Homo sapiens: one gene and its partners. The protein of the gene in region 1 purifies or fractionates together with the protein of each later gene. This does not show direct contact. Each region holds a gene or a part of one and is shown in the gene's direction. Other genes may lie near its edges.

Region 1 (3,500 bases):
TACATTCATTTATTTTTTCATAAGCTTTTAAGTTAAAATATGGAGTTCTTACTATACACTAGGCACCGTGTAGGCATTGGGGATCAAAGTTTTTAATGTGTAAATTTAAATTTTACAAAAGAGTACTGAGAAAAACATAAAGACGGCCAGTTGGCTAGCCTTCCAGCTAGGCTGTCAAAAAACTATAACACTTCACACAGGTTTTTCTTATATATTTTTGTATTTAAGCCTCATAGATATCATTATTCTCATTTTCATAGGGAATAAATATTAAGTAACTTTATTGATCAATTTGTTTTTGACAAAAAAAAGAACTATAAAATATGACTGTTTTTATTGCTTATAAAGTGCCTTTGATTTTGATTCCTTTTGTGTAAACCTTAATAATTTTCTTTGTCTGTCTTTGAGCATTGCATAAAAAGGCATTGTATAAAGGAATATCTGTCTCCATATTTTACAAAAGAATACTTCGAGAAAACCACTTCAAAGTCAGTCCAAATGTGTAGTGGTACACCTCAAAGCAGCCATCTCAGTTTGTGGGAACCTCCTGTGCATTGTTACTTTTTAATATAAGTGAAAGCTCCTGATAGGCAGACTATGAGAAAATTATCTGGGACAGAAATTGAAGACATCCAGGAAATCTGCAGTGATTGTTTCAGCAATGACTTAAATTTCTACTCTTAGATTTATTTTTTATTTTAATTCAAGCTAGTCTGTTGAAGATTCTGGTCACTTGATCTTACTTTTTATACTCTTTCAACTATGCTGGAATATATTAGATTATGAAATTCATGAAAGATTAATAATCTGGAGCTTTTTTCAGTAGTCTAGGATTTGGAATATGATTCTCATGAAAGGAAATTTTCTTCACGAAAAAAGTTTCACAGAGGAAATAGTACTCAAGCTACACATATTTAATAAATAAAGCTGATACTTGCATTTCTCCCTTGTATGGATAAAAAGTCATTTAATTTTTTTTCATTTTGTTTTAGTCACTGTATATATGCCTTATTTCCTGGGTCCATGGGAAGCATGAGTCTGTTGGGACTTGGGACAAGAAGAAAACAAGACATCTTCACAAGGAAAACCAAGTACTAAAAAAAGTATCCTCCCAACTCTGAAGAGATAGAACACAAACATGGCCGACAGTGGACTTAGGGAACCTCAAGAGGGTAAGACTGATTTGTCTGGCACTGAGGTTGCTGCTGTAGGAAACCAGGGGTGTGCAGAGAGAGAAAATCTCTGATGACTAAAATCTGAGGTTTTGAAGTAAAAAAGCTAATTCAGTGGGTTCATTTGTTTTGATTATACTTATTCTTTCAAATTTACTGAATTTTACTATAATGCGAGACCCTAATTATAATATAAGGAAGATAAATGTTTTAGAGACTCCAATAGTAAGGACTTATAGTAATGGAAAAATACAATGCTTCTTTAAAAAATGATGGTAGACAAATCTTTAGAGTTATATATATCCTGTGATGTGCTATATTTAGAAGGTATCTTTCTTCTTCCTCTTCTTCTCCTTTTTTTTTTTTTTATGTTACCCAGGCTGGAGTGCAGTGGCGTGATCTCAGCTCACTGCAACCTCCGCCTCCCGGGCTCGAGTGATTCTCATGCTTCAGCCTCCAGAATAGCTGAGATTACAGGCGCCTGCCACCACACCCAGTGAATTTTTGTATTTTTAGTAGAGACGGGGTTTCACCATGTTGCCAGGCTGGTCTTGAACTCCTGACCTCAGGTGATTCACCTGCCTTGGCCTCCCAAAGTGCTGGGATTACATGCATGAGCCACCACATCTGGCCATTCTTACTTTTATTAAAGAAACAAAGTCTTTTGGAATTTCCCACGTGCTGGGTTTTGCTGATTATATTCTTGAGGCATAATTTAATGTATTCCTGTATCCCTATATTTCTTGGAAACTGGTTGCTCTAGAAACTTACCAGATTTAAGTTTAGTTGTTTGGCAAAAATACTTCCCAAGTGGTCTAGAGTACTTCTTACTGCATTGTATTAGAAAGTAAATGATATCTGTTTGGGTTTCCCTGTTTTCATGATGTGAAGATTGGTCGCTGGGTTCAGCAGTTGTCAGTCTGGCTCATCCACTATAAAAGTCCCTATCAGCCTTTTGCATAAGGTTTTGCTACCATTGATGAGCATTGCCTTTCATTAGGGAAGAGGATATATTTAATATAGCCAAAAGTTTGTTCTGTCATATAATTTGTTTTATATTAGTGTCATTTTATATTTATTAACATGATAAGATTTTTTTTGTTGTTGTTTTAATTGCCTTTAGTGGGAGCCAAGAGAAATAATGTTTAGGAAGTGTCTTGTAAACCATGAAAATCTATGTAAATATTATTATTAAACAGGGACCTTGTTAAAATATAAATTTATGGGGAATTTTTTCCAATAAAAATTATAAACTTTTATCTCAATAGACTCTCAAAAGGATTTGGAAAATGATCCATCAGTAAATTCTCAGGCGCAGGAGACCACAATCATAGCAAGTAATGCTGAAGAAGCTGAGATCCTACACTCTGCCTGTGGTCTTAGCAAAGACCACCAAGAGGTAGAGACAGAAGGTCCAGAAAGTGCAGATACAGGTGATAAATCAGAAAGTCCAGATGAAGCAAATGTGGGGAAACATCCAAAGGATAAAACAGAAGATGAGAACAAGCAGAGTTTTCTGGATGGCGGAAAAGGGCATCACCTCCCTTCAGAAAATCTGGGTAAAGAACCCTTGGATCCAGATCCCAGCCATTCTCCAAGTGACAAGGTAGGAAGAGCAGATGCACACTTAGGGAGCAGCTCTGTGGCCCTCCCTAAGGAAGCGAGTGACGGAACTGGAGCATCTCAGGAACCACCTACTACAGACTCCCAGGAGGCCCAGAGTCCTGGTCATTCCAGTGCAGGGCAAGAGGGTGAGGATACACTGAGGAGGCGACTGCTGGCCCCAGGTAAGAGAACCCCCTGAACTACTCTCCTGTTTTGTACTGCTCTGTTAACTGAGAACACAGCAGAAGTCAGAGGCCTTCTTTCCAGAGAACTTTTGTCATCTTTCATAGGAGTAAGGCCTTTGGGCCTTGCCCAAGCTCACACCAAGCCATGACTGAGTTGATTTTAGAATGAGGTTTCTCATCTAGGCTAGCTCATTCCACTATATTAAGTTGCTTCCTACACATAAACTGCATTTCTAAGCATGTTTTTATTAACTGTTTATATTAATGTGATATGACAAAAAGGGGCATGACTTTTAAAAAATTCGCTTCTGGTTTTTTATTTCTTATGAGAATATTTCGACTTACAATTTTTAAAATCTTTTACTTTTTGGGAAACTAAATGTTACATAAATCAAGAGATGGGTATATTTAAAAATGAGCATTAATGGGACAGTATCCTTAACTCAGTCATGTTTCAGTTTTATAGGACTTTGAGTAAGACAGTTAGTTTCTCTATACGTGGTTTTTTCTGCCTATATGTTAAGAGGAACAAGCATGT
Region 2 (3,500 bases), on another chromosome or scaffold:
TGAGATTCCTGTGGTGTTTTTTCATGGAATTAAAAATTAATAATTTCAATAAAATTAACTGCTGAAAGAACCCAATTAGCCAAAATGAAAAGCATAACACATTTTTTCAGGAGCGATTTTGAGGTGTCTTTTAGAATAAATTGTACTCTGCTTTTGATGTGATTTGCTACATCTTTTTGTTGCAGTTCCTTGAGGCTCAGCCCCTGGCCATATACTTGCTTCACTTTTCCTGCTTTCTTCCATCCACTGTCTTGGGGCTGTTATTTCCAAATCTCATCACTGTGTTCAAGACTTATTTACTATTTCTGGACAGTTCCATTTGGGTACACAGGTACATCATACTAAACTAACATGAACTCATTTTTCAGCTACACCATACAACCTTCCCTTACTACCAAAAATGACAGCCCATTTGTCGGCATTCTTCTGAATCCATATTCCTCCTTCTTAATTCTCTGTGCATGATACCTCTGGTTGTTTAAGTCAGAAACCTGGAATGTATCTTAGCTTCTTATTTCTCTTCCTTCCTTACCTGTTTTGTTAAATCAGAGTTCTTTTGTGTTTACCTTCTTAATGCCTCATAAATCAGTCCCACTTTTCTTTCACTACTGTGTCTTAATTCATGCCTTCATTTACTTTTTATTTTATTTTTTGGGATAGGGCCTCACTGTGTTCCCCAGGCTGGAGTGCAGTGGCATGATCATAGCTCACTGCAGCCTCAAACTTCTAAGCTCAAGCAATCCTCCTATCTCAGCTTTTTGAGTAGCTGCAACACCAGGCACATGCCACCATGGCCGGCTAATTAAAAAAAATTTTTATGTGGAGATGGCATCTTGCTATTTTGCTCAGCCTTGTCTTGAACTCCTGGCCTCAAGCGACCCTCCTGCCTCAACTTCCCAAAGTGTTGGGACTACAGGCGGGACCTACTGTGCCTGGCCACCTTCATTACTATTGGCAACAATTAGTCATAACCCCTTAACAGGATTGCTTGTCCTCAGTTGTACATCTGAGTGATTTTTCTAAAAGATTGGACCATATGATTTTTCTGTTTAAATGCCCAGTGACACTCATTACTTTTAGGAAAATGTCAAACTCCCTACTCCGAAGGCCTGCAAGCTCTGGCCCTTGCCTGGCCCTCTAGCCTTGCCCCTGCTTCTCTCCCTTACTGGTCTTTGTGTTCTAGCCAACCTGTAGGTGTTACACTGGCCCAAATTTGTCTTGCTGCTTTTTGCCTCTGTACCTTTGTGTGTGCCACTCCTGTCTTCAGTGCGATGGTTGGTCCTTGTGAGATTCTGATGAAATGGTTGGCCATTTTATTCTTATGTCACAATCCTGGGACACAAACAGTGATTTTATGCAATTGTTATGTATTTGATGCACTTGGAATATTGGGGGTAGCTACATTTTGGAGTTTTGAGAACGAATTCAAATAAGTTACAAATTATGTTTAAAGTGGTAGACAGAGAACCTGATTTCAACCTATTCTAATAAAGCATTCCGTGAAAGCCATTTTAAAGATGATCCATATTTGTTAAAGTGGTAATTTTTATATTCTCTGATATGGTTTGGCTGTGTTCCCACCCAAATCTCATCTTGAATTGTAGCTCCCATAATCCACACTTGTCATGGGAGGGAGGTAATTACCTGGTGGGAGGTAATTGAATCATGGGGGCAGGTTTTCCTGTGCTGTTCTTGTGATAGTTAATAAGTCTCATGAGATCTGATGGTTTATAAAGGGCAGTTCCCCTGCACACTTTCTGTTGCCTGTTGCCATGTAAGACATGCCTTTGCTCCTCTTTCACCTTCCACCATGATTGTGAGGCCTCCCTAGCCATGTGGAACTGTGAGTCCATTAAACCTCTTTTTCTTTATAAATTACCCAGCCTCAGATATTTCTTCATAACACTATGAAAATGGAGTAATACATTCCATTACCATAAAGAAAAGGCTTTCATGTACATTATTTTTTAGAGTAGCCTTGTGGTATGTCATTACCTCCATGGATAGATAAGAAAGTTGCAACTTGCACAGTATTAGGATTGATATCAGTATTTACTTTTATTAAGTTGAACTTAAGAGCAGCTTTTTGGCTGGAAAAAAGTTGTACTTATGTCAAAGTTGTCCTGAAAGTAGAATCCTACTCCTGTCCCCAGCCTGAAACTATTTACTACATATTTACTTGCATGTTCTTTAGAATATTCTCTCAATAGTGTCTCCTACTCAAGTCATCAGAAATGCTGTGATGTCATTTTTGGAAAAGAATTCCAGAGTTATCACCGCCTAGCTAGAAATCTGGTCTTATATTCAAATTAAACAAGCAAACCTTAACAAAAACAAGCTAAACCCTAAACATAACATGAACAGTCAGCTCACCACAGTTCTGAGCACCTGCCTTGGCCTGGTGCCACCCACGCAGGGACTGTGGATGTTTTTATTGGCAGAGATTCAGAACAGGAAACTCCAGCACACCTGGGAACTGCGCAGACCCACCACATAAGACAGATAGCCTATCAGTGGCTGGAGGAATGGAGGAAAGCAGTGCTTTCAAATGTACATGCCAAATGTGTATGATCATACCTCTTTGTTAAAGTGCCTTCTTTAACAGCAAAAGTAATTCCTCACCTTGCATATAGGAACTAAAAAAAAGTCGATGAAGAAATGGCTTGCCTTATTTTCAAGTAAGAAGTCTTTTTTCATTTCACTAATTTTTAATTATGGGCATAAGTATGAAATACAGATTAGAAATACTGAATGTGGACCAAAGCAATGTTTCCTTTGTGGACCAAAGCAGTGAATCTTTTTTCTTTCTTTCTTTCTTTTCTTTTTTTTGTTAAGAGACAGGGTCTTGCTCTCTTGCTCAGACTGGAGTGCAGTCAGTGATGTGATGGCTCACCATAACCTCAACCTCTTGGGCTCAAGGGATCCTCCTGCCCCAACCTCCTGAACAGCTGGGATTACAGGCACATACCACCACACCTGGCTAATTTTTAAAAATTTTTTTGTGGGGGAGGGTCTCTCTATATTGCCCAAGCTGGTTTCAAATGCCTGAGCTCAAGTGATCCTCCAACCTCAGGCTCCCAGAGTGTTGGGATTACAGGTTTGAGCCACTGTGCCTGGCCCCAAAACAGTGTTTGTAACTCCCTTTGTCCCCTCTTGATAAACATAAAAGTCTCATGGTACTTCAGAATTTTGTTGCACACATCCAAGTGTAGTTTGCCTTTCCTTGTGAGTGGCAGAAGACAATGTCATACTCTGTATTTATCCATCAGCCAAAATTTTGTCAAGCTTTACTTTTATTTTTTAAATTTTTATTTGTATTTTTTTTTGGAGACAGAGTCTTGCTCTGTCGCCCAGGCTGGAGTGCAGTGGCGTGATCTCGGCTCACTGCAACCTCCGATGCCTGGGTTCAAGCGATTTTCGTGTCCCAGCCTCCAGAGCAGCTGGGACTACAGGCACGCACCACCATGCCTGGCTAATTTTTTTGTATTTTTAGTAGAGGT
Region 3 (4,097 bases), about 130 Mb from region 1:
AGAAAGCTCAAAAAAATCTAACTGGTCTTCTGGCTTCCTCTGTCTGCTTCCAACCCATTCTCCACAAAAAAAGTAAAGGTTCTCTTAAAACAGAAATTGGATTATATTGCTCCCCTGCCTAAAACTGTTCTATGGCTATCCACTTCAAACAAGCATCAACATCACCTAGAAACTTCTCAGGAATGCAAAATCCCACCCTGCCCCAGACCACTGAATCTAAAACTCTAGGGATGGGGCCCAGCACCTCTGTTTTAAGAAGTCATCCAGGTGATTCTGACGCAAGCTAAAGTTTGAGAACCATTGTGTTAAGCTAACTGCTTTCTATGTATGATGTTATTTAAACCTGGCAATTCTTATGTATTGTTGCCAGCAGAGTGCAGTGGTTAAGAGCAGAATCTGGAGCTAGGCTGAGTTTCAATTCCACCTCTCCTAGCTTTGTGATATTAGGTCTTATTTCTTTATCTGCGACAGGGATAGTAATAGCGCCTATAGCCAGCACGGTGGCTCACTGCCCATAATCCCAGCACTTTGGGAGGCCAAGGCGGGCGGATCACTTGAGGTCAGAAGTTCAAGACCAGCCTGGCCAACATGGTGAAACCCCGTCTCTACTAAAAATATAAAAATTAGCTGGGTGTGGTGGCGCACGACCGTAGTCCCAGCTACTCAGGAGGCTGAGGCAGGAGAATCGCTTGAACCCAGAAGGCGGAGGTTGCAGCGAGCCGAGATGGTGCCACTGCACTCCAGCCTGGGCGACAGAGCGAGACTCCGTCTCAATTAAAAAAAAAACAATAATAATGATAATAGCGCCTACCTCATGGGGTTGTTGTGGAATTAAACATCATCAGTAAGGTGCTTAGAACAGTGACAGAACCTGGATTTTAATCTCCCTTGGCCTCCAATAGCTGTGCATGCCCCAGGACTAGGTAACGGCCTTGCCCAGGACGGGTATGGGGCGGGTGGTGTGTGCCCTGTGTCCAAGGGTTGCAGCCCCTCTGACCCTGGCGTGCCCTGTGATCTGGTCCAAGGTGCTAGGCCTCTGACTGGAGTCGGGCTTGCCATCGGCGGTGCTGGGGAGCGGGCTGCTCTCGTGCAGGCAGCCCCACCAGCCAGCCGGGCTGCGAAGCTGCCTAGCACGGTCTGAGCATTCGCCTTACTCGCTGGCTGCTTACACCCCGACGCCGCTGCCGCCACCGCCGCCGCCGCCGCCGCCGCCCTAAGCACCGCCCGTCGCCCTCTCACCCCGCGGCAGCGGCGGCGGCGGCGGCGGCGGAAGCGGGGGGGCGGGCCAGGCCGGGGCGGGGCCGCAAGCGGCATGGAGGAGGCGGAGGCCGCGGCGAGCCGGGCCGAGCAGTGAGGGCCCTAGCGGGGCCCGAGCGGGGCCCGGGGCCCCTAAGCCGTGAGTGCCTCCGCGTGGGTGTCCGGAACGGGTAGCGCTGCCGGTGCAGGTCTCCTGAGCCCTCGGGCGGCTCCGGGCCCTGGGAGGAGGAGAGAAGCTGGGGCAGATAGGATGGGACGAGGGTTGAAGACTGGGGCAGGAGAGGTCGCTCTTTGCTCACCACAGGCTTGGGAAGGCCTGGAACTTGGTCCTTGTAGGGGCTAACGAACTTTGAGCCGATTATTTGGCCTCCACCCTTGGACAGCCTTGATTCAGAGAGTTACTCCAGTCTCAGGGAATTTCCAGGTGATCCAACCCCACTGAAGGGTTTCCTGCCAGCCCAGAGAAGTTGAGCCACTTTCCCCATGTCACACAGTATGGGTGCTTGCAGGGAAGAGTTGCTGGGAGGTCCTCCCTCATCTCCCCAGAAGGCATCAGACTTTGGGAGGAGCATCTTACCCCATGTGGCCCTCTGGTCCCTTCAGATTCCTGAAGTCATGGGCTGGCCAGGACATTGGTGACCCGCCAATCCGGTATGGACGACTGGAAGCCCAGCCCCCTCATCAAGCCCTTTGGGGCTCGGAAGAAGCGGAGCTGGTACCTTACCTGGAAGTATAAACTGACAAACCAGCGGGCCCTGCGGAGATTCTGTCAGGTATAGAGATGTCCCAAACCCTCCCCACCGAGCGCTCCCTCCCAGCTTCCTCCCCACCTAAATCAGGCACTGGGACCCCTGTTGGCCAGCCCCAGTGGGAAAGGGGCAGCAGGTTCCTAGAGGGGAGACCTCTATGTGTCATGTCCCTATAGGTAATGATTTGAACCCAAAGTTCTGGAATCGGAACCCAAGTACAACTTCTAAGCTTCTGACGGAAGCCTGAAGTCTGATCAGGCTGGCTTTGCAGAGAGGCACACCCCTGTGAGGCAGTTAGGGCCAGGACCCAGGTCTGATCCCCCGCTTGGGTCCCTGGGCCTGGCTCCATCTCTAGAAACCAACAATGGAGGGGACCAAGGAAATCAAGGTCTCAAATAGAAGAATACAGGAGCACTGGGTAGGGAGGGCCCTAATGGAGGGGGAAGTGTCAGGGGAGGTTCCCTGGGGAAAGTGGCTGTGAAACTAGGCCCTGGTCAGGGGAGTAGAGCTAGGCAGACAGAGGAAGGGACAGGACCCAGTTTCTCTGGATGTCTTCACTGCAGCCAGGGCCCTCCTTTCAGAAAGACCCTCTAGGATCTGAAGGAGGTGCTCCTCTTAATCATCCCTACCCCTCCCCTCAGACAGGGGCCGTGCTTTTCCTGCTGGTGACTGTCATTGTCAATATCAAGTTGATCCTGGACACTCGGCGAGCCATCAGTGAAGCCAATGAAGACCCAGAGCCAGAGCAAGACTATGGTAGGGCTAGGCTAAGGATGGGGTAGGGGGCCTTGGATCTCACAGCTGGAGTGGCAGGCAGACCCTAAGCGGTGAGACTCTGCTGAGGAGACTATCTCCATGACCTGTTGTACCCCACAGATGAGGCCCTAGGCCGCCTGGAGCCCCCACGGCGCAGAGGCAGTGGTCCCCGGCGGGTCCTGGACGTAGAGGTGTATTCAAGTCGCAGCAAAGTATATGTGGCAGTGGATGGCACCACGGTCAGTGGGCCAGGGTCTGGTGTACAGTCACTCTATTCTGCTCAGGGCATGGTCCACTGGCAGCAGGGTCTACTGCCTAAGTGGGAACTGCAACTCTGCCAGTTTCTAGCTGTGTGACTTTGGAGTCCTCGATTCCTTATCTATAGACTGGGACTAATGATTTCTACTTGTCAGGATTCAATGAAAAGTTTGTGAAGTGTCTTGTATGTAGTGGGATCTCAAAAGTAATCATTCATAATAGTAGGCAGTCAATTCATTGATTTATTTTATAACCATCCCCTGGTCCTTTCTTTGGCCTCAGCCTTGTGCTGGGCACTGGGGACCTGAAAGTAATCAGACCTGGCCCTACCTTGAGGGGTTCAGTGTGGTGGAGGATTGTGATACTTCCAGGATGAAGCAGAGACAGCAGAGGCTCTAAGAGCCATGAAAGTCATGGAGGGGAGGGTTGTAGAAAGACGTGATCTCTTCTGATGGGAGTGCTATAGAGGCTTTCTGGAAGAGGTGGCCTTCGAGCTGAGTTGGAAAAGAACTGTGTGAACAGAAACATAGGCAGGAGGTGATGTTTCAAGCAGCTGGTGTTTTAAGTACCCCTAAGACAGAGACACCTTGAATGCCAGAGTGAAAAGCTGGACTTTGTCTCTGCCACTGTGTAGGTGCTGGAGGATGAGGCCCGGGAGCAGGGCCGGGGCATCCATGTCATTGTCCTCAACCAGGCCACGGTGAGTTTCTAGGGGTGGGTGACCCAGAGGGCTGGAGCTGGGCTCTTGCTGATGACACCAACTCACCAGAAGTATATCCCCTGCCAGGGCCACGTGATGGCAAAACGTGTGTTTGACACGTACTCACCTCATGAGGATGAGGCCATGGTGCTATTCCTCAACATGGTAGCGCCCGGCCGAGTGCTCATCTGCACTGTCAAGGTCAGTTATTCTGTCCTGACCCTGACCCCTACTCCCTAGCTCCAACCCTGCTTCTAGCCCCGGCTTCTCTGCCCCTCATATAACATAGTGGGAAGATTCTCTGAAGGAAGGTTACTCAGGTTCCAATCTCAGCCTTAACATTTGTATTAATTCAGCAAATAGTTATTGAGCAACAG
Region 4 (3,500 bases), on another chromosome or scaffold:
TCATAGCATCTCTGGAAGTTGATGGTAGAAGAATCCGATTTACTGGGTCAGCTGAAGGTAATGGCTTAGCTGTTGTAATTCTTACGGTGATGCTGGTAGGCAGTGACTTGCATTCTCTGATGTTTCCTGAGAGCACTGGTTGCCTATACCCAGACTTCCAGAGTCAACTCATTTGTTCTTATCCAAGTGAGCAAACTATACCTAATGCCACAAATCTACGATAATACAAAGATTTGGGAGTGTACTTTTTTCTGGCATATATATATAATTATGTTGCTATTGAATAAATAATGCCAAATACACACCAGTCATCCTGCTATGCGGAACTAAGTATGCCTCTTTGAAATGCCAAATGCCTGTATCTTTTGTAGCTTGGGCTCAAATTGATGAAATTAGAAATTACTGTATACATGTAATTCCTCAGGACAGTGAGGAGCTCCTGCCTTGCTTTACTGAATTGTAAATTGAAATTCTTTCCTCAGATCATTAAAGACTTTTACCTTCTGGGACGTGGAGAACTGTTTCAGGCCTTCATTGACACAGCTCAACACATGTTGAAAACACCACCCACTGCAGTAACTGAGCATGGTAATTGTCAGTGGCCCTGAGAATGATCAACTGATTGACATTGCAGGGTATTTCTTGGCTGCTGCTGACCCTTTTAAGGCCTGCTCCACATAAGAGCAGCCTGATGAGTTACAGAGCAGTGGCTTCCAGAGATGGAAGGCTCTTGCAGGTAGGCTTCATGCTGGGGTCATTGGGAACAGTGTCTTGGCCTGTGACCCTTCCTGGAAGAGTTGGTTCAGGCCTTCAAACCAGGTATTTTTTCTCATTGGATTATAGCCATATATACTTTATGGGCCATATTGGGACTTAGTGCTGCTTGTAGTTTTGCAGTAGAATTCTTTAGGTGTGAATGATGGAAACTCACCCGAACTAGCCTAGTTAGGAAAGGGAAATGGATTTGCTATTGTATCTAAAACCCCAGTGGGAAAACTTCGATTCATTCTCTCTCTCTCTCATTCACTCATTCACCACATCTTGTTTGTGTCTCTTGTGAACACTTTGATGACCTTCTGGAAACATGATCACAGCATCTCCCAGGAATATGCCTCACAGTGTCCTCTACGGAAGGAACTGAACCCAGTCCCTCTTGTTGCAAGTTAGAGAATTCTAGGGAATTATCTAGGTTTTGATTGGCCCAGCCCACATCACATCCCTATCCCTGTATCAGTCAAAGAGGTCAGACACTAGGCTATGCCTAGTTCAGTGAAGAGTCTACCCCTTGACCCACTGATGTCCATTCCCATTCATACTGCATGAGTAGAGTTGGGTAAGGATCCAAAAAAAGAAACTGTGAGAAAGAAAATACATACACACAGGCTGATCATTTTTCTAACTCAGTAAAACCATAGATGTCCACTGTACTTATATAGTACAAATATAAGTACTTGTGGTTGCAAATATCAGAAAATCCAATTCAAACTCACTTAAGCAAAGCAAAAGGAAAGAAATAATGTATTGATTCTCATAACTGAAAAGCTCAGACGTATGATGGTTTTCGGCTAAGTTTGATCCAGTGACAGGTGTGGCACCTTTAGGACTTGGTCTCTTTCCATCTTCTACCTCTTTCTTCTCAGACAGGCCTGCTCTGTATGGTAGCAAGATAGTCTCTAGCCAAGTTTACATCCTACTAAGCCCCTGTTTATCTTGAAAAAAGAGCTGGACTCTTTTAGAGTCTGAATAGAGCCTCTGGATTGGCCTGGCTTGGTCATGTTAATATCCCTAAACAATATAGCATAACAAAGTAGAGTATTACATTCCATTTGATCATGCCTACATCACCCAGCTACCCCTAGAATCAGGTGTTGTCTAGCACTAACCCACTGGAAATATGTGAACTGTACTGAATAGGGATGATTCTCCAAGGAAAATCAAGAGGCAGTTTGTCAGCAAGAAGAGAAGGATGGATGGGTGTTAGACAAATGAAACAGATGTCCACTGTGTCCTGCTGTTAGCATTGAGCATGTTGGGGGAGAAGTGGAAAGCTGGAGGAGTCTGGGTTTGTTATGTAGCCAAGCGTCCCTGTCAGCCTGCGTGTTCTTTCTTGCAGATGTGAATGTGGCCTTTCAACAGTCAGCACACAAGGTATTGCTAGATGATGACAACCTTCTCCCTCTGTTGCACTTGACAATCGAGTATCACGGAAAGGAGCACAAAGGTTTGCCATTCCTCCCTGCCACCTTAGAGTTCCTGCTGGTCATCATCCATTTTCCCATCTCTGCTTCCATCCCCCGCCACAGAAACCATATGATTTTGGATCTTAGAAATCAGCTAGTACAGTACTATAATTCTATAGAGAAGAAAAGGAAAGTCCAGAAGTCCAGAGAGGCTAAGTGAGATGCCCAGGCCATGTTTTGGGGGAGTTGGTTTTTTTGGTGTTTTTTTTTGTCATGCTGCTGGAATGGTGCCTGTTTATTTCCAGCCCCCAGATTTTAAGGCTGAGGAAAGAATCTCTAGAAGACCTCCCAAGAGAACCTCACATAGAAGTTTCCTTGCCCCCTTCTTAGTGTCCCCTGTAAGCTTCTGACATCGCAGACTCCATTGAGCTCTGTTGCTTTTCTTTTGGAGACAGAGTCTCACTCTGTTGACCAGGCTGGAGTGCAGTGGCACAATCTTGGCTCACTACAACCTCTGCCTTCCAGGTTCAAACAATTCTCATGCCTCAGCCCCCCTGAGTAGCTGGGACTACAAGTGCGTGCCACCATGCCCAGCTAATTTATGTATTTTTAGTAGAGATGGGGTTTCACTGTATTGCCCAGACTGGTCTTGAACTCCTGTGAGCTCTAGTTTCATTAATGTTATTCACTTGTTGAGTCTCTGGTTCTAGATTAACCAAGTTGTTATCTTTTCTTTTTTTCTTTTCTTTTATCACAGCAGATGCTACTCAGGCAAGAGAAGGGCCTTCTCGGGAAACTTCTCCCCGGGAAGCCCCTGCATCTGGCTGGGCAGCCCTAGGTCTTTCCTACAAAGTACAGTGGCCACTACATATTCTCTTCACCCCAGCTGTCCTGGAAAAGTGAGTATTTCTGAGTTTCTCACAGGTAAATATGACCCACCTTACTTGTAAGGGAAGAAACTAGCAGGAACAGAATTAGTGGGAAAGCAAGGTGTGGTGGCACACACCTGTAATCCCAGCTAGTCCAGAGCCTGAGCAGGAGGATCCCTTAAGCCCAGGATTTCAAATCCATCCTGGGCAACATAGTAAGACCCCCATCTCATAAAAAAAAAAAAAAAAATTAATGGGAGCAAGAGAGCCACCCAACTAGTTTTTAACAATCTGTAAATCAAAAATTGTAAACCCTTATGCCTTCAGGGGCTAGACTGATCACATTAATAAGTGAAGCCACAGATATGAGACACGGAGTTGGAATCAGTGGGAGGGCATATCTACTTCAAACCATCATTTTTTTAAATTGCCAAATAATAAGCAGTTTGTT
Region 5 (3,500 bases), on another chromosome or scaffold:
GAGATAGAGTCTTACTGTATTGCCCAGGTTTGTCTAGAACTCCTCCTCAAGTGATCCTCCTGCCTCACCCTCTCAAAGTGCTGGGATTACAGGCATGAGCCCCTGTGCCTGGCCTTCTTTTACTTAAAAGAAAAATCGTTATAGCCATCCTAGTAGGTATGAAGTGGTATGTCCTTGTGGTTTTGATTTGCATTTCTCTAGTGACTAATGATGTTTAGCATCTTTTCGTGTGCTTATTGGCCATTTGTGTATCTTTTTTGAAGGAAATATCTTCAGGTCTTTTGGCCATTTTAAAATTGGATTGTTTGCCTTTTTTGTTGTAAGAGTTATTTATATATTCTTGACACTAGTCCCTTATCAGATATATGAGCGGCAAATGTTTTTTTCCTTTGTGTATGTTGACTCTTCACTTTCTGAGTGGTGTCTTTTGAGTCATAAAAGTTTTTAATTGTGATGAAGTCCAGTTGATCTTTTTTTTTTCTTTTGTCTTTTGTGCTTTGGGTGTCATATCAATTATTTTATTTTTAGTATAGCAAGTGAATTGGAAATTTGTATATGTTCCATTATTAGTCATTGATTTGAAAGAGTGACGTCTGTACTTCAGACTTGTATTTTTCTGTTACTTTTCAACTCCTGACCTATTTTGTTCACTCTAAGACATCACTCCCTTTGTATTTCCTTGGTGCCTAATGTCACTTGTGTTTCGTAGGGTGTGGTTCCAACTGCTCAGCGTGCTGCCATCGTTGTAGGAGTAGAGCTACCAGTCTATGATATTACTAAGAAGCATTTAATATTGTCAGGAATGATGGGCGATACAATTTTAACTCACTTCGTGTAAGTAGGATGGGATGTGCTCATTTTATTTCCAGCATTTTGAGCACAAAAAGCCTCTTTTACTGAAATCCTCAGGTGGAATTTGATAACTGGTACGTATGGCCTAAATTCCCTTGTCTCTCCTATTATCAGAACTTCAAGCCTTATGAACACTTTATACTTCACAGAAATGCCAGGTGCTATGGGGGCTTGGGTACTTGGGAACATTGTCTAATACAGCAGCCTATCAGAGGTCTATTTGATTTACATTTATCCATACATAGCTTCTATATCTAATAAGCACATCTATTATTTGCTTTGGTTAATTTTGTTTGAGAAAGCAAACTTTTCTCAGTGGGAATCAGAAAAAAAGGGGTAAATAAGGTCTGTGAAACTAAAGCACAGTTTTTTGGCTAAAGACTGTTACTGATCTCATTTTACATTTTCTTTGTCTTGCAACCTTTATGATAATTTTGTTACTCAAATGCATTTGGCATGTGATGCTGTGGTTTGAAAAATTTATGTAACTAATACATGGTGCATGATACTTTCTACTTAGGAATCTTGTTAGGTTTAGAAACTCTCCTTTAAAAAAAAGGCTGAGTTTCAGATTGAAAATTGAAGGGACAGCCTTTGAATGATGTCTCTTTAGAAAAATTTCCTGTCTCTTTAGATTGTAACGAAAGGCCAAGTGCCAGGTTTTATCTGATGGGTCTGAGTTATATTGTACAGTTTACGTTTGGCCTAATTTCTGTTTAAGTGGGCAGGGAGTGAAAGTGGGGTCGATCTACTTAAACTTTTCCTCTTAGTTCCAGCTTTACATGTGGTTTGGCTGGGGCTCTGGCCTCCAACCCGGTTGATGTGGTTCGAACTCGCATGATGAACCAGAGGGCAATCGTGGGACATGTGGATCTCTATAAGGGCACTGTTGATGGTATTTTAAAGGTAAGTACATTGTGGATTTGGGTTACAATTTGGCTTTCTTTGATGTCTTAGACCTTCCTTCAGTTCTTATTATTAGTTGCTACATACCATTTTGAAGATGAAAGAATCATATTTTTTTAGTAGCTTCTCAGTTATTCCCAGGTAGAAAAGCTGTCTCCTTAGCAATCTGCTAATTTGCAGTGGTACTTAATATAATGATTCCCATTTGAATGCTTTAAAATACAGGATGCTTTTATTAATAGTATCATGTAGAATTATTGATAGAAAAGACAATATATCCCCCATTTGCCTACTTCATACAACACAGAGACCCTGCAATAGAAAACTCAATACTTAAGGAAAAAAGCCTGTATTTTATTTCAGTTCACGGTTATGCTGTTGTTCACTTTGGCTTTGAAAGTTCCTGCTGTTGTGTTTGTGGGAACTGAATATTCTAAAAGTATTACATCATTACTGGTGATATTATTGCTACTGAAAACAAATTGAGGCTAAAATATGATGTTGCCATATGGTTTCTCTCCTGTTATCAGTTTTGTTTAACAACTATTACATATTAGACACCATTTTAGTAGTTAGAGAGAAATTACAGTTATTACAAAAGTACTATAGGTATACAAACGGATCATCAGTACAGCCTGATAAGTGATAAACTCAAGAGTTCTCAATTTGGAAGCATTGAGGTAGGCTCCCTGTAGATGGTGGCATCTTGAATAACAATAACTCATATCCACTGAGTGCTTTTTTGTGTGTCAGCAACTGTCCTTATGAGACTTATGTGTATTCGTTCATTGAATCCTCACCATTACTCCACGAGGTAGACACTGAAGCACTGAAAGATTAAGTAAGCTGCCTAAGGTTTCACAGCTACTAAGTGGGAGAACTGGAATTTAAACTCAGATCACTTGACCTCAAACTGACATTTACCTCTCCACTATGGTGCTTTCCTCATATTGGTGGCCAAGGGTTAGATTATAAAGGATACTGAATGCTATATTGAGGTGCTTGGACTTTTTTTTAACTTGTCAGGGAGCTGTTGAAAGTTTTTAATCAGATTAGCTTTGCATTTTAAATAGATTACTTTGGCTTTATGGAGACTGGATCTACCACAGTGGTTCCTCATCTTGGGTACACATTGGAATCACTTGGGAGAACTTTCGCAGCTCCCTCCTCTACCTTAGACCAATTAACTCAGAACCTGGGGAGTAAGGTCCAGGTGTCAATATTTTAAACTATATCAGGTGACTGCAATGTTCACCTAAGGTTGAAGACTACTAAGGGGATAAGCCTGGAGCCATGGTTCTTCAAAGTTTAACATGCATCAGAATTACCTGGAGGGCTTGTTAAACTGCAGTTCACTTGGAGCCATCTCCAGATTCTGATTTAGTAAGTATGGAGTGGGACCTGGAAATTTGCATTTTTAATAAATTCCCAGGCAATACTGATGTTGCTAGTCTGGAGACCACACTTGGAGAACCACTGACCTACAGATAGGGAAGCTGATTAGAAGGCTCTTGTAATCTGAGAAAGAGGGGATGAAGGCCTGAACTTGAGCATGATAATGGAGATATAGAAGGTGGGACAGAGTCAAGAAAGAATTAGTTGATAGAGTCAGCAGGATTTGATTGACTGGATGTGGAGGGGTGTGGGAGAAAAGAGGTGTCAAAGATAAGTTCTGGGTTTTTGGAGTTGGTGACCAGGTGGTGACATTCATTGACAGAGGCATCACAAGAGGAGCACGTCTT
Region 6 (3,500 bases), on another chromosome or scaffold:
AAGCCAATCACAGATACTTAACGTGTTATTGCATAACATTTTGGAAATGACAAAATTTAGAAATGGAGGATAGATGAAAAGTTACCAGGGTGTAGGGATGGGGCAGGGTGTGTGGTTATAAAAGGCCCCAGGAGGTAGCCTTCTGCGGGAACAGTCGGGGTTTCGGCCGAGGTCTAGATGTGCACACCCAGATGAGTTACGAGTAAACTGGGCCATGTGAAAAAGACGGGTGCGCTGCCATGTCAGTACCCCAGCTGAGACACTGTTGTGTAGTTTCGCAAACCGTTGCCATTGGAGGAAACTGTGGAAATAAAGACACTGGGATTGCTTTGCTATTTTTACTATTATGCAAATCTGTCATTATCTGAATAAAGATTTCCGTTAAATAAAAAAGATAAAGCTTACATGCTGCTTTATGGAATAATCAGACCTGAAGTCATGTATCAGTCCAGCTGTGGAAAGCCAGCACTCACAGCACCCCTCCCCACAAGGTCTCGTACAATGATAGAATTGGAACTTATAACTGAGTCACACTAAATTGGCCATAAAGCTACTGAAGATTTAGGTTTTTTGCCAGTGAGACAGTCTTCAGGGGATGGGAATGTGTGCTAAAAACTAGGAAAAGTTCACCTTTGCAGTTTCCAGTCTGGGTAATAAAAATCAGTGAGTGACCATCACCCCTGAGTGTCAGCAATAAGTAGTTATACTGTAACAAAATAGTAGTTTATATTCAACTCCACATGCCGTTATCAAAATAAAGCTGGGCCTTGTAGTGTATGTGCATTATTTCAAAATGCAGTTAGCACCAAAGGGTGTAGAGTAAGAGGTAAGTCCCTCCCACACCTGCTAGCCACACACCGCCCCTCTCTGGGAGAGTCTGTGCCCTTTCTGTTGGCATCTTTTTTTTTTTTTTTTTTTTTGAGGTGGAGTCTCACTCTGTCATCCAGGCTGGAGTGTAGTGGCGTGATCTCAGCTCACTGCAACCTCTGCCTCCTGGGTTCAAGCAGTTCCCTGCCTCAGCCTCCTGAGTAGCTGGGATTACAGGCTCCCGCCACCACACCTGGCCAATTTTTGTATTTTTAGTAGAGATGGGGTTTCACCATATTGTCCAAGCTGGTCTTGGAACTCCAGACCTTGTGATCCACCCGCCTTAGCCTCCCAAAGTGCTGGGATTACAAGCGTGAGCCACTGCGCCCAGCCTTCTCTTGGCATCTTTCCACCAGCCAGCTACCTCGCGTGTGTGTGTGATGTGTGAGTGCACATGTGCATTCTATTGAGACGAATTTTTTAAATCCAATCATTGTATTCAGTTCCTCTTCGGCATATATAGTTTATATCATCAAATGTTAACTGTTTATTAGTGCCCTACACAGACTTTTAGGAATGTTTAATATAACAGTTTTAAATTAAAAATACAAACTAGGCTAGGCACAGTGGCTCACGCTTGTAATCCCACCACTTTGGGAGGCCAAGGCAGGCAGATCATGAAGTCAAGAGATCAAGACCATCCTGGCCAACATGGTGAAACCCCGTCTCTAGCTGGGCGTGGTGGTGTGCACCTGTAGTCCCAGCTACATGGGAGGCGGAGGTTGCAGTGAGCCGAGATCACGCCACTGCACTCCAGCCTGGTGACAAAGCGAGAGTCCATCTCAAAACAAAAAAAAAAAAGTACAAACTAAAAAAGTGAGCTTTTCATGGTTAGAAGTGATGGAGAAGGAAAACTAGCCAAGAAGTCCCAAGAGGTATATTGAATTAATAGGAATTAACTTGTCTTGGAGGAACTTACACATAAACATTCTTTAAAAAGCAACGGACATTTTCCAGTCGTTTGTAAGTTCTCTCAGAAACAGAATCGTAAGACCAATGCATTAATTGTGTATTTAATTGTATATTCACACCAAGCACAGGGGCTCATGCCTGTAAACCCAGCACTTTGGGAAATCACAGTGGGAGGATTGCTTGAGGCCAGGAGTTCGAGACCAGCCTGGGCAACATGACCCCGTCTCTACAAAACTTTAAAAAGATGGGCCAGATGTGGTGGCCTGAGCCTGTAGCACCAGCTACTCAGGAGGCTGAGGTGGGAGGATTGCTTGAGCTTGGGAGGTTGAGGCTGCAGTGAACCGTGATTGCACCACCGCACTCCAGCCTCGGCCGCAGAGTGAGGGCCTGCCTCAAAAAAAAGTGTATTCACTTAATTTTTGAAATGTGAATTCAATTTGTGAAACTTTTAAAGTTATTGAGTATTTACTACTAAGAGTAATTTATGTTAAACTATCCTGATTATATGATAGCAGGAGAAGATACTGTTTGCTATTGTAAACATGTTGCTGAGTTGGTATTGATTTGCTTTTGTAGACTTTTGGAACAGCGATCGTAATCAATCCTGAGAAAGACAAAGACATGGTCCAAGACCTGTTGGACTTCAAGGACAAGGTGGACCACGTGATCGAGGTCTGCTTCCAGAAGAATGAGCGGTTCGTCAACCTGATGAAGGAGTCCTTTGAGACGTTCATCAACAAGAGACCCAACAAGCCTGCAGAACTGATCGGTAGAAAAATATTTGTTTTTTTTGTTTGTTTGTTTTTGAGACAGTCTCACCCATTTCTAGACAATTTTTTAATATGGGAAAATAAGGCAAAATCAACCAAAATGTTCAAGCTGCTCAAGGGGTGTGTGGAAAGCGTTTTTATCAAGTCTTATTAGGACACAAATTTAAAAACCGACACACCTGCATGCATGGGTGGAGGAGGGCATTTCCATAAGGGAAGATGAGGTAAGAATTTAGAAAAGAAATGATGCTTGACTTCGCCAAAGAAGGGAGGGGTGATCACCATCTTTGTATCCTCTAATCCATATTAAAATAGGATAAAACCAGATGAGATCTCAAATGATAATACTATTTTTAAGCTGTACAATTTTTTCACAATAATATCAAAATATATTTCAGAATTCATAGGCTTTCTCTAGTCAGTAAAATTTTTTTTTTAATTCGAAGGAGAAAGGGGGCAAAGAGAGCTGAAATACGACGATACTAGATTGACTGTTGATTACTGCTGAAGATGTAAGATGGAACATGGAGCTCATTGTGCAATTGTCTGCTTTTCTGTGTGTTCAGAATATTCCATTACAAAATGTTTAAAAGAAAAAAACTAACAAAAACAGCAACAGAAGGAATTCAGGAGGCAGTTTACTTTGGCTTTTGTTCCTCTGTATCATTTGTGGTTTCTCTAAAGCAAAGGGATGTTGAGCTCTTGGGAGTTTGGGCTTCTGGAAGTCTTGGGTTCTCCCATCACATGGGGACTTTGGTCCTCCCTCCCAAGCCACCTGACGATGGCTTGTGCAGCCTCAGAAACAGGAAGCCCGAGTAGAAATGCTTTCACCCTGCGTTGCCACCTTGGATGCTCTGAGAAAGTCTTTCTCTTTGAGAATGTCTCCTCTGCATTCATGACACCAGATCCTAGAAATAGGCACTCCAGCGTCCGGGGCAGTCACGTCCTGAA
Region 7 (2,400 bases), about 70 Mb from region 1:
AGTTGTAGCATTTTCTTTTTTATATTTTTATAAACGTCTTTAAAATAGAAATCAGGACAGTTTAGCTATTTTTTTGTTTGTTTAGCTATTATTTTAAGTGAAAGGGATGCCCTAAAGGTAGCAGGCAGGCAGACAGATTTGCTTTAATTAGGAGTTCCCACCCTTATGAGTAATTTTTTTTCTCTATTCAGTTGTTTTTTTTTTAATCTTGAGCTTAAAAAATCCTCAGAGTTACAAAACCAAAATTTTGAAAAGTCAGAATTTGGAGAAAGGAGTCCACTGACCATATAAAGAGAGTAATAGCCACCTAAAAATGACTCGATTGGTGTGTAGGTAAATAATTCTTTTACCAGAAATGTGTGTGACTGAAATTTGATCAGGGATCTCAAAGATATGCTGGTAAATTGTATAGCAATGTAATTATTTTAATCAGGTATTTGAGTATTTCTTAAGATACAGTTTATTCCCAGAGAGTTTGCTTTAACATGCATTTTTTAAATCATTTGTTCTAGAGTTCTGTATCCCATATATGCACTTTTGGTTTGTAGCAGTAACTGTTCAGTAAAAATTAAGGACTATGTTACAAACCATATATGTCTTATGCTTACACTAGTATGCAAGAAGTGAGTAGGTGCTTTTAAAATCAGAATTCTTTGGTCAGTTATTGGTGTGTGGTGGTGTTTTTACTGACTTTTTCAGAGAGGTGTAGCAGGTACAGTTCTAATCGTGCATATTTCGAAACTAAGTGTTCTTCATCAAAGATGAGTTTTTGTTTTTGTATCAATTCAAATTTCTGGTTTCAATAATAGAAAGAAGAGTTGTCTGCAGGCTCATAGTCATCTTTTATTTCAGTGGGCATTTAAATCAGCCATATTTGGATTGCAGAATTTCTTAAAAAGTCATCATAAAATGCCTTTGACATGCTCTTTTAAAATTTTGCTTGTCTTTTTATTTTCATATTTAAACAGTAGTGACATTACATTATTGAAAATGTTTTGAACATCTTGGAAATTTTATGTTCAATATTCTCACTGCTGTCCAGCTACGGAATTGAAATGTCAGTGTAGGAAAACCTTTTTTAATTGTTTTATTTTCCCAGACACCCGGAATTAATACAGGATCATTTAACTTAGCCTCACAGTTTTTTTTTTTTCAAAGGTGAGATGATATCAACCTCTGGTTCTCAACAAGGACTTTTGCTGCTTAACAGTAATGGATTTTTTTTTTTTAATCTATCCCCTCTGTCCCACCCCTAATTTGTCAGGTCATTAGTAAGTATATTTTTCTCCCTTGATTTAAGTGCTGAAGACTTCAGCTAAGGCCCTTGATATTTAATTATGATTAGAGACTTTTGGACCTTCTGGATCATGGTCATGTTTCTGTTCTATGAAAGTGACTTAACTTGAAGCCTGGCAGAACCCAACTGTTTTCTTTCTGTTATCAAAGCTGGTAGTTTTGAAATAGCACCAATAATAACCCAGGGAAATGTCATGTAATTTTTATTTTCCATTATGACAGGTGTCTAATGCATGTCAGCACAAAAGTGTCATCACTGCTGTGTCATCCCTCTTGGTTTTCACTATGCATCTATAATTTTTTAAGTTTGCAGGTTTTGTGGGGGTTTTTGTTTGTTTGTTTTTAAACTGGAAAAACTAGCCATTTTGAGAGAAGGAAGGTTCTAGGCTATGAGCATGAAGGTCCTTGTGCCTCTTGGGAAAATACCTGAAATCCTATAATGAAGACTTTTGATGCTTCTTGCTTTCAAAAAGCTGTGGTTGGTTTGGAGTAGACACCTGTTCAGAAACTAATGCAAGTGTGGAGTCTACATACGTGGGCTCATAGTATAATTTGTGGCCAGCTACATTTTTCCAGTTTAAATAAACTCACTAACCATTAATTTTTGAATATCTTTTGTTGAGATAGTTGGACAAATGATTTTGCTCTTTTGGAGAGTGAAGTCCATGACATCTAATTTTACTGTCATCCAAAATGTGTGTTTTATTTCTTTTCTTTTACTTTCTTTTTTTTTGTTTGTTTTTTGTTTTTTGTTAGTGTGACAGCGTACAGAAGAGTACTGTGTTTTTGCTCCATGTTTGTTTGAATCTTTACCTGACATTGCCGCTTTTGTTAGGTCTGGGCAATTTGTGCTTCAGTGTTTTTGAAACAATGGCTTGATACCATTTCTAAATGTATGTATTATAAAAAACTAATTATGTTTAGTTGGTCATTACCTACAGAGTGCCATAGTCCACATGAACCTCATATTTGTACTGCCCATTCTTTTGTGCAGGTTCATAATATCCATAAAGTATCTAGTTAAACCTTAAGAATTCAAATGAAAGCAAAAGTCTAAAACCGGTTCTACTTCTCATTAGCCAGGATTTAATAATCCCAACGTTG

Evidence for each region.
Region 2: the proteins of TOR1AIP2 (region 1) and SLC16A10 purify together in Homo sapiens (affinity purification with mass spectrometry; 2 studies listed by BioGRID and IntAct, with this or other methods). This does not show direct contact.
Region 3: the proteins of TOR1AIP2 (region 1) and POMGNT1 purify together in Homo sapiens (co-immunoprecipitation; 3 studies listed by BioGRID and IntAct, with this or other methods). This does not show direct contact.
Region 4: the proteins of TOR1AIP2 (region 1) and TUBGCP4 purify together in Homo sapiens (affinity purification with mass spectrometry; 2 studies listed by BioGRID and IntAct, with this or other methods). This does not show direct contact.
Region 5: the proteins of TOR1AIP2 (region 1) and SLC25A14 purify together in Homo sapiens (affinity purification with mass spectrometry; 2 studies listed by BioGRID and IntAct, with this or other methods). This does not show direct contact.
Region 6: the proteins of TOR1AIP2 (region 1) and CUL4A purify together in Homo sapiens (affinity purification with mass spectrometry; 4 studies listed by BioGRID, with this or other methods). This does not show direct contact.
Region 7: the proteins of TOR1AIP2 (region 1) and RBM15 purify together in Homo sapiens (affinity purification with mass spectrometry; 2 studies listed by BioGRID and IntAct, with this or other methods). This does not show direct contact.

The regions. Positions count from the first base shown.
Region 1 is NC_000001.11:179,850,304-179,853,803, reverse strand, and holds part of TOR1AIP2 (torsin-1A-interacting protein 2), read left to right. Parts: intron 1-992; 5' UTR 993-1,138; coding exon 1,139-1,172; intron 1,173-2,440; coding exon 2,441-2,959; intron 2,960-3,500. UniProt on the Homo sapiens protein: Required for endoplasmic reticulum integrity. Regulates the distribution of TOR1A between the endoplasmic reticulum and the nuclear envelope as well as induces TOR1A, TOR1B and TOR3A ATPase activity.
Region 2 is NC_000006.12:111,094,003-111,097,502, forward strand, and holds part of SLC16A10 (monocarboxylate transporter 10), read left to right. Parts: intron 1-3,500. UniProt on the Homo sapiens protein: Sodium- and proton-independent thyroid hormones and aromatic acids transporter.
Region 3 is NC_000001.11:46,195,635-46,199,731, reverse strand, and holds the start of POMGNT1 (protein O-linked-mannose beta-1,2-N-acetylglucosaminyltransferase 1), read left to right. Parts: upstream 1-1,297; 5' UTR 1,298-1,396; exon of another isoform or gene 1,397-1,681; intron 1,682-1,860; 5' UTR 1,861-1,910; coding exon 1,911-2,030; intron 2,031-2,182; exon of another isoform or gene 2,183-2,370; coding exon of another isoform or gene 2,371-2,424; intron 2,425-2,647; coding exon 2,648-2,762; intron 2,763-2,882; coding exon 2,883-3,001; intron 3,002-3,242; exon of another isoform or gene 3,243-3,431; coding exon of another isoform or gene 3,432-3,530; intron 3,531-3,654; coding exon 3,655-3,720; intron 3,721-3,807; coding exon 3,808-3,921; intron 3,922-4,097. Other genes in the region: TSPAN1 (tetraspanin-1), read right to left, coding at 3,432-3,530. UniProt on the Homo sapiens protein: Participates in O-mannosyl glycosylation by catalyzing the addition of N-acetylglucosamine to O-linked mannose on glycoproteins.
Region 4 is NC_000015.10:43,395,101-43,398,600, forward strand, and holds part of TUBGCP4 (gamma-tubulin complex component 4), read left to right. Parts: intron 1-6; coding exon 7-57; intron 58-482; coding exon 483-588; intron 589-2,113; coding exon 2,114-2,221; intron 2,222-2,937; coding exon of another isoform or gene 2,938-2,940; coding exon 2,941-3,079; intron 3,080-3,500. UniProt on the Homo sapiens protein: Component of the gamma-tubulin ring complex (gTuRC) which mediates microtubule nucleation.
Region 5 is NC_000023.11:130,363,919-130,367,418, forward strand, and holds part of SLC25A14 (brain mitochondrial carrier protein 1 isoform 1 precursor), read left to right. Parts: intron 1-709; coding exon 710-834; exon of another isoform or gene 835-1,622; coding exon 1,623-1,758; intron 1,759-3,500. UniProt on the Homo sapiens protein: Transports inorganic anions (sulfate, sulfite, thiosulfate and phosphate) and, to a lesser extent, a variety of dicarboxylates (e.g. malonate, malate and citramalate) and, even more so, aspartate and glutamate and tricarboxylates.
Region 6 is NC_000013.11:113,240,613-113,244,112, forward strand, and holds part of CUL4A (cullin-4A), read left to right. Parts: intron 1-2,355; coding exon 2,356-2,548; intron 2,549-3,500. UniProt on the Homo sapiens protein: Core component of multiple cullin-RING-based E3 ubiquitin-protein ligase complexes which mediate the ubiquitination of target proteins. As a scaffold protein may contribute to catalysis through positioning of the substrate and the ubiquitin-conjugating enzyme.
Region 7 is NC_000001.11:110,342,377-110,344,776, forward strand, and holds part of RBM15 (RNA-binding protein 15), read left to right. Parts: intron 1-2,400. UniProt on the Homo sapiens protein: RNA-binding protein that acts as a key regulator of N6-methyladenosine (m6A) methylation of RNAs, thereby regulating different processes, such as hematopoietic cell homeostasis, alternative splicing of mRNAs and X chromosome inactivation mediated by Xist RNA.